Regions from separate parts of the Homo sapiens genome. Here all the other regions are linked to region 2. Evidence: fine-mapped expression QTL. A gene starts in region 2. Each other region holds a variant in brackets. All regions are shown on one strand. Distances are from middle to middle.

Region 1 (2,850 bases), 44 kb before region 2:
ATGATTCTTTGCCTGCAAGAGATGAATAGAGGATGAGAGCCAATAAGCAATGGTTTTAAATGCCTGCCTTATTGAAGGAGGGCTGTGATTGCTTAAAGGAATGCCAGTTAATAAAGATCCCTTCATGTTGTGTATGTTCCTTTCCCCCTCTCCTACTCCCTGTTTAAAAGCAGGATTGTGGAGAGATTGCATAATGGAAACCTCTTTGGGCACGGTTTCCCAACCATCTCCTTTTCAGGATTACATGTGGCCTTTTGAAGAGTGGAAATGGTAGTTGGTATCAGGGGACATCATCTCCTGGACCCCCACACCCTCCTCCCCAGTACAGGCAGGCAGATCAGTGAGGCAATCAAGTGACATGACACCTCTGGCCTGTGATTCCAAAATCCAAAAACCTCTAAAAATATCAAGTTTAGTTATAAATCATTTGAGGGCAAAACTTCACATGAGCTGACATATGGCTATTTACAGTCTTTTTATGAAACCCAGTAAGTGGGGAAGGGTCAACCTATTTGGTTGCAGAAATTTCATCTTATCGATTACAGGGTGCTTCTCCAGACACTGTGAGGGTGTGATGTATTTCTTTTCTTTCATTTTGTTTGTTTGTTTGTTTGAGAGTCTCACTCTGTTGCCCAGCCTGGAGTGCAGTGGCTTACTGCAGCCTCCACCTCCCAAGCTCAAGTGTTCCTCCCACTTCAGCCTCTCAAGTAGCAGGGACTACAGGCATGTGCCACCACAGAGGGCTAATTTTTGTATTTTTTGTAGAGACAGGGTCTCGCCATGTTGCCCAAGCTGGTCTTAAACTCCTGGACTCAAGCGATCTACCCACCTCAGCCTCCCAAAGTGCTGCGATTACAGGCGTGAGCCACCACACCTGGCTGAGTGTGATGCGTTTCCAAAATCTAAAATATTCTGAATTATCCAACATTTCTGGCCCCAAGGGTCTTAGATAAGGGATTACAGTGCTGTAATAGTACATTGCAGATGAGATCATTTCTATCCTAACAAACAAAAAACAAACTATGATTTTTGCTTCATAATTTTATGGTTAATTTAGGACCTTCCTAGGCATAATCTTTTAAAAAGGTAAAACTTTGCCTTGGTAAAACGACAACTAACAAAACGTACTGGCTATAATAAGTCCACTCATTATAACTAAAATGTATTTAAAAAGTAATTTTATTTTCTATAACATCTTATATTGCTTTGAAGTCCCCATTCCAGTGGAGTATTAGAGAGAAAACTCTCTTTTTTATGTGTGTACTTACATTTTTGTTCTGGGTAAGCATAGAGAGAAAACTCTTAATCTTGTTCATTAAAGGAACTTGGGCACTTTCTTTTTAAAATCTACTCTTTAGAATAAAGCCAATCACTTTTGGATAAATGTTTGTTTTCCTTCTCTTGGGTGGGATCTGGGCACAGGGAGAACTTTGTGTGAGTAACATCATGTCAACAAACTATTTGCACTTCCTGAAATCTAGCCCATAGGTTTTTTTTAAATGTAGCAAGTTTATAAATGTGCGGGTATACACAGGTATAAATTGTGTGTGTGTGTGTGTGTGTGTGTGTGTGTGTGTGTGT[A/GTGTA]TCATATATATAGTCTATAATAGCTAAGAACTAAAACGGCCAAAACATTCACCAATAGATAAATGGTTGAGTAAACTACATGTATGTTTATACAGTGGAATACTATGCATCGATTAAAAAGAATTAGGTAAATTGGCCAGGCACGGAAGGCTCATGCCTGTAATCCCAACACTTTGGGAGGCCGAGGTGGGTGGATCACCTGAGGCCAGGAATTCGAGACCAACCTGGCCAGCATGGCAAAACCCTGTCTCTACTAAAAGTACAAAAAATTAGCCGTCTGTGATGGTACACATCTGTAATCCTAGCTACTTGGGAGGCTGAGGCACAAGAATCACTTGAACCTGGGAGGCTGCAGTGAACTGAGATCGAGCTACGCCACTGCACTCCAGCCTGGGTGACAGAGCGAGACTCCATCTCAAAAAAAAAAATTAGGTAAATTATATAAGCTTATATGAAAAGAGGTCAAAGACCATAACTGACTGATAAAAGCAAGTTGCAGAATAATGTTTATAGTATAGTGGCACAAGCATACTATATGCAAAAAAGTATGTATGTGAAGGTATAGAAAAAAGACTGAAAAAGATACAAATCCAACAGTGATGATTACCTCTCAGGTTAAGTATTGGATTGAAACAATGGAGATGTGAATAGTAACTTTTACTTTTTACTCTATTGTTTGGAATTTTATAATGTGTATGTATAGTGCTGTGTAATTAAAATTATTTTAATTTCTAAAATCATTGCGTTCTCTATGAAAAATATATACATGATAATAGTTAATATGTTAATAATAGGAAAAGCTGCCTGCATTGACAAGTTATGTATCACACCTCAAGAGCTGCTTTCTCGCCTGGGAGAATTTGAACAGTTCTGCCCTGTCAGCCTGGCAGAATCCCAGGAATTATTTGATTGCTCTGCAACTGACTCCTTGGAATTTGCAGCAGAGTTCAGGGGGCACTACTATAAAATGAGTTCTCAGGAAAAACTGAATGTAAGTTTGTTCCTAACTCCAAATATTTACTAAAGAAAGAAAATGTCTTATCTTGGAATCAATCAATAGGAAGGGATAGGCACCCAGAAACTTGGGACTAGGAGCCCCATTACTGGAACTTGTGACTCTGGGACCAGTGAAGCAACTCAGCAGTGAGTTCCAAAACTGCATCCCAGGATATAATTTGAAACATTGCAGGAGTCCAGGGTCATTAATTGGCTGTTGGCCTAGGCCAGCCTAACGGCTAAGGAGAGCCAACAGTGAGCCCCATCAATGGA
Region 2 (2,500 bases):
ATCTCAAGGACAGCAACCCTCTTATTTATACCTGGGTTTTATTAGTGCTTCCAGTGTAACAGTATCACTTCGTCTAAACAAGAAACAGCATCTTATAATGCCAGCCTTTCATGCGTCATTTTGGGTCAACCCTGGGGTGGTGGAGCCGACAGACCTGGGCCCCCAAACAGCTCTGCCACTTGCTGTGTGCAGATCACAGAACATCTGTGACTCAGTTTCCTTTTTGGTAAAATGGGACTGTTGCAAGCACTGATGTTGAGGTAATACTCATAGGATGACGGTCAATAAATGAGACGATGTTTTTTAATATTAACTAGCTAAAAGACTGGACGCGTCCCTTCACTTTAGGCGCTGTTCCTTATCGGGAATACGACGAAGCTGATCCCAAAGGCCTCTCCAGCCCTTTTCAGCAGACAGTCCCGTGGGTCCTCACTCTAAGGCATTCTTTGAAGACTTGGTCTCTCTTCCACACACCCCTCCCATTCCCCATCTCTTAGTGGTGGTCTAACCCGCCCCGCCATCCCCTTCCCTCTCACTTCTCATATCCATTTGGAAGCTGCAGATTGCTGAGTTTCCAGGACTTTAATCCGCGCCCTTTGCCCTCGGCCCGGGCTTAGGGGTCGACCTCTGTCACAGGAGGCGCACTCTGCGCTTGGATCCATCCTGGGGCGCCCGGGCCGTGGATCTCCAGGTGGGAGACCGGAGGAGAGCGCAGACGTTCCGGCGCCACCCTCGGACCCGCCGGCTTTTCCAAACCTCTTGAGGAGCCTGAGCGCCCTCTCGGCCCGGCGCTGGGAGGCTGCCAGCGGACCTGGGACCGCGGCGGGGGCGGGTGGTCCTCGCCTTGCGGCGGGGAAAGAGCTAGCCTTGCACGCGCAAGCACCGGCAAGGAGCCCAGGCCGAGGGTGCGCGGTCCAGCACTGGGCGCCCTGACCCTCGAGCTCCTCAGCCCCCAACAGGCCAGACCCACCCAGAGGCCCCAGAGCGGAACGGGGTGTCCGCAGCGCCACGCCCTCGGGCGCCACCCTGCAGGCATGGGCGGGCCCAAGACTGTCCCCGCTGGAGGCGGTAGAGGGATCCAGAAGTAATGAGATGCTAATGAGTCGCGAATAAAGCCCGGGCGGCGCCCCGCGCCCCTCGCGGAAGCCCACACTCCGCGCGACTCCAGGCGCACGCCCCGGGCCGCCCCGCATCCCAGCATCCCCGCCCGATCTCGGCGTTTCCGCCCCCGCCCCCGCCCCCGCCCTCCCACCCGCTCAGACCTGGTTGCCAGCCCAACAGGAAGCGGCCCCTCCCGGCTTCGGAGCCGCCGGTAAGTCGTCCAGCGGAGCCGGCTGCGAGCCCCGCGGCCGGGTGGGGTGAGGTGGGGTGCGCTTCCGGGGAAACGCAGCTGCGGTCGCTCGGGAACCACGCCTGGCAGGTCAGGCAGGTCTTCCCTCAGCCCAGCCCTGCTCACGCCGCGTCCGGACTTTGCCGTCCAGTGTCGGGGACCCCCACCGCTGCCGCCCGCGGTCCAGCTCCCTCTCCATCCTTTCAGACCGCTCCACCCCTCTCACAGCCTTTGTCCTGGCGTTTCCAGGCTGGGTCGCTCCTTTCTCCCCTTTCGCCGAGGTCTTCCTCCTTCCACCCTCCACCCCCAAGAAAGATCTTTGCCCTTCCGTCATGAGATTCCGTCTGCCCTCGTCCGGGCCACCCGCAGCGGGAGGCTTTCATCTCCTGTCTCGGCGCGGCGGGCTGGGAACGGAGGGGCAGCTGGATGGTGGAGGGGCCTGAGCCTCAGGGACCTGCCCCCACTGCTGCCATTCACCCTCCCTAACGCTGCCGTGGACACCCGCCTCCTCCATACCCTCTGATACCTTCTGGGCCCCGCGTGAGAAACCCCCTCGGGCACCCTTCAGGTGGCGTGGGAGGGGGCGACAAAGCGAGGCTTTGTCTCCGGAGATTCCTGGGAGAGCGCGCCCGGGCGCACAGGGGGCGGGGCGGGGTAGGGGTCGATCAGGGAGGGGGGAACCTGGGAGGGGCGCACCCGGCTGCGGTCGACCCCCAGCCCTACCCACGGCCCCCTGGAGTAGGGCACATTCACAGAGGAAGTGTTTTGACCACAGTGCGTCAGAAATAGACCCAGGCCTCCGTTCCCCAGTCAGTCGCAACATCCTCCCGCCGTTTGTTGAGGCAGTTTGGTGGAGGGAAGTGGAACCTACGCGGACAGAGGCTGTTTCTCTGTCAGGAGGCAAGCACGAGTGCTGAGGAAAACTTTGCCCTTGCCATGAGACACTTCTCAGACACAGCGTGGCACTGAGGCCATCAAGGGGCGCCGGCACAGGGACGCTTGGAGGGAGATGGGGCAGGATGTATGCTCAGCAGCTGGGGTTGTGGGTATCAGATCTGTCCCTGTGTTGCATGCAAAGGCAGCTCTGTCCTCTCCACATCTAAGAAATCCCCGCACACCCTGATTCCAAGGCCTAAGGAAGGCAGGCTAAGAATTCCTACCCCAGGGCTT
Region 3 (2,850 bases), 120 kb after region 2:
ATACTTTTTGAATAGGTGGCAATTAAGGAACAGCCCAACCTTCCAAGGCAGGCTTAGATTTAGGTTCTGGAGAGAAATGGGAGCCAATATTTGGAAGGTAGGACAGACCTACCTAACTAGGACCTGCATATCTATGCGAGTGTGTTTGTCCCTCTGTGCATCAATGAGTGTGTGTGTGTGTGTGTGTGTGTGTGTATCTATCTGCAGGGATGGGGGGTGAGAAAGTTTATGGGGCCAAGTCTAAGACCCAGCCTACACTGTAACGTGAGTTTTATCTGTGACACTTCTGGGGTCAGGCCGGCTCCTGCTCCCTGGCCATCTACCATTGAAGCCAGCCTGTCCTTTGAGCCTAGGGGATCCTCCTGGCTCTGATTTGCTTGTCCTGGAAGGCCCAGGGCACTGTCCTATCATTGCAACCCCAGTGCTCCACTGACCTCCAGTGAAAGCCTACCATGGGCTTGGCCAAGGTAAGTTATTGAGGCAAACTAGCAGAGATGGCAAATAGCAGTAAGACGAGCCCTGATGGAGGAGAGTAAGGACAGTGGCTCACTCGCTGCAGCTGGGGAGAGGAGACAGAATCTATTTTGGAGGCAAGCTGACAGAATATATGACAAGATTTTACATGCTTGTGACTTTTGACTTAGTAGCTCCTCTTCTAGGAATTTAGGGAATAAAAGTTATCCACAAAAACATACGTAAACAGATGTTTATGTATGTTTTTATATTTTTACATATTTTACATATGTCTTTATATTTTTTCCAATAGAAAAGAAAAATGGAAACGACCTAAAATGCCTAACAATGGAAATGAGTTGAATCCATCTGGCTCATAGACATGACGAAATACTGAATGGCCACCATAAATGGACATATGTTTATTGATGAGGAAAGATCTTTATAACATATTGTCAAGTGAACAAAAAAGCATGCTATAAAAAAAGGTCATGCAGAATAATCTTATTTTGTAAAAAAAAAAAAAGTGTGTATTAGTCCATTTTCACACTGCTGAAAAAGACATACCTGAGAATGGGCAATTTACAAAAGAAAGAGGTTTAATGGACTTATAGTTCAACATGGCTGGGGAGGCCTCACAATCATGGTGAAAGGCAAGGAGGAGCAAGTCACGTCTTACACAGATGGCAGCAAAGAAAGAGAGCTTTTGCAGGGAAACTCCTGTTTTTAAAACCATCAAATCTTGTGAGCCTCATTCACTATG[G/T]TAAGAACAGTGCAGTAAATACCCACCCCCATGATTCAATCACCTCCCACTGGGTTCCTCCCACAACATGTGGGAATTGTGGGAGTTACAATTCAAGGTGAGGTTTGGGTGGGGACACAGCCAACCTATATCAAAGTGCATGAGTAGAAAAGTGTTATAAATAAAGTTTGGAAGAAAATATGTCAAAATAATAATAGTGGAGGCTAGGTGCTGTGGCTCACATCTGTAATCCCAGCACTTTGGGAGGCCAAGGAGGGATTGCTTGAGGCCAGGAGTTTGAGATCAGCCTGGCCAACAAAGTGAGACCCCATCTTTACAAAAAAGAAATACAAAAACTAGCTGGGCATGGTGGTGTGTGCCTGTAGTCCTAGCTTCAGGAGGCTGAGGTTGGAGGAGCACTTGAGCCCAGGAGTTTGAAGCTGCAGTGAGGTATGATCAGGCCACTGCACTCCAGCCTGGGTGACCTGTCTCTTAAAAAAAAAAAATAATAATAATAATAATAATGGTTATCAATGAGCACTAAGATTATGAGTATATTTTCTACTACAATATAATCATAAAATGTATATAACTAAAATAATTATGTAAATATATGTAAAAATAAAATGCATATAGTAATCTAAAGATAGTTGAGCTTTTTAAAAAGTCATCAACTATATCAGCTTGGCAGGATATGATCAAGATACGGGCAATAAAGCAGCAGATGGAAACCTCTGCTCACGCTGCATTTAATGAGCAGTGGATGGGGCAGTGAGGGGCAGGAACTCAGTGTCTCCCACTCACACTCTAGGGCCCTCCTCAAGGGGCTGCATTAGTGGGTGGGGTGAGGGCAGGATGACCTGCCCGTTACCCTTCTTGCCCCACCCAGTCTCTGGAGAGCAAGCACCAGGACAGCCATGGTTTAGTTGCTGACACAAGGCAAAGAGAACTCAAGATTCTACCCCTGGACCTTGACCTCCTGGTGAAAGGGCAAGGCTACACGGGTTTGGTCATGACAAAGGAAGCACTTCCTGGTTTGACTGTAATGAAAGCCTGCAGCCATGAGAAGTCACAAGACCCTACTGGAGTTCAGCAAGGTGTGGCCAGTGACCTCTTCTGGGCCTAGTGCTCTGAGCCAGCCACAGCAACTCAGTCTTTACTATCCTGGGTATGAGTGCCCAGACATGGGTGTGCCAACAGGGCATCCAACAGCTCTTATGCAGGGCAAACACTTCTCATAGTAATGCCACCATAGCCTCTGCAGATATAGGATCCCAAACCCACAGAAACGCACAACTGGACCACAGTGGCCCTCTGCCATGCCCTCTGAGCCAACATGATGTTTTACCTGGCCAGCAGGAGGAGTCTGTGGTGAGTCTGTATAACACCAAAGAGGTGGGAAAGGTAGGACTCTCCTTGAGCATCTCCAGAGGCCATAGAAGTTCTATTGCTTCCTTCTCTCAGAGCTCTACTGAGGCCTCAAGAGGTTGAGCTGAAAGCACAGCTCAAGGGGAGAGAGGCTGGAAGCAGGGAGAGGGAGAAGGGTGCAGGCAGAGTACCTGCAGGGGACATGGGACAGGGAGCATGTCTGAGGAGGGGCAGACAGGAAGCAGTGAGTGGCCAGTGAGGGAGGGGTGCAGGGAGGCTCTCAGGCT

Which allele goes with the higher level. Alleles are on the strand shown, and positions count from the first base shown. SD is a standard deviation of normalised expression in the study named. Not every link is listed here.
With allele A in place of GTGTA in region 1, the expression in Th17 cells of the gene that starts at base 1,259 in region 2 is higher (large effect, 0.84 SD a copy in Schmiedel 2018).

What was found. PIP is the estimated chance that this variant, and not a neighbour inherited with it, causes the effect.
Region 1: its variant is fine-mapped to the expression of MICAL1 in Th17 cells (Schmiedel 2018, PIP 0.95).
Region 3: its variant is fine-mapped to the expression of MICAL1 in whole blood (TOPMed, PIP 0.93).

The regions. Positions count from the first base shown.
Region 1 is chr6:109,498,766-109,501,615 of GRCh38, reverse strand. AK9 (adenylate kinase 9) reads left to right here. Exons shown (of 41, transcript NM_001145128.3): 36 at 2,376-2,572. All of the region lies in intron 3 of ZBTB24-DT (ZBTB24 divergent transcript), which reads right to left. Among named protein-coding and RNA genes, the nearest start is that of ZBTB24-DT, 17 kb to the right of the region's middle. The variant A/GTGTA (reference allele first, on the strand shown) is at 1,582.
Region 2 is chr6:109,454,531-109,457,030 of GRCh38, reverse strand. MICAL1 (microtubule associated monooxygenase, calponin and LIM domain containing 1) reads left to right here and starts at 1,259. Exons shown (of 25, transcript NM_022765.4): 1 at 1,259-1,312. RefSeq lists silencers at 638-1,487, 1,848-2,187 and enhancers at 1,747-2,255, 2,338-2,387.
Region 3 is chr6:109,332,336-109,335,185 of GRCh38, reverse strand. It overlaps the pseudogene CCDC162P. Among named protein-coding and RNA genes, the nearest start is that of CD164, 49 kb to the left of the region's middle. The variant G/T (reference allele first, on the strand shown) is at 1,217.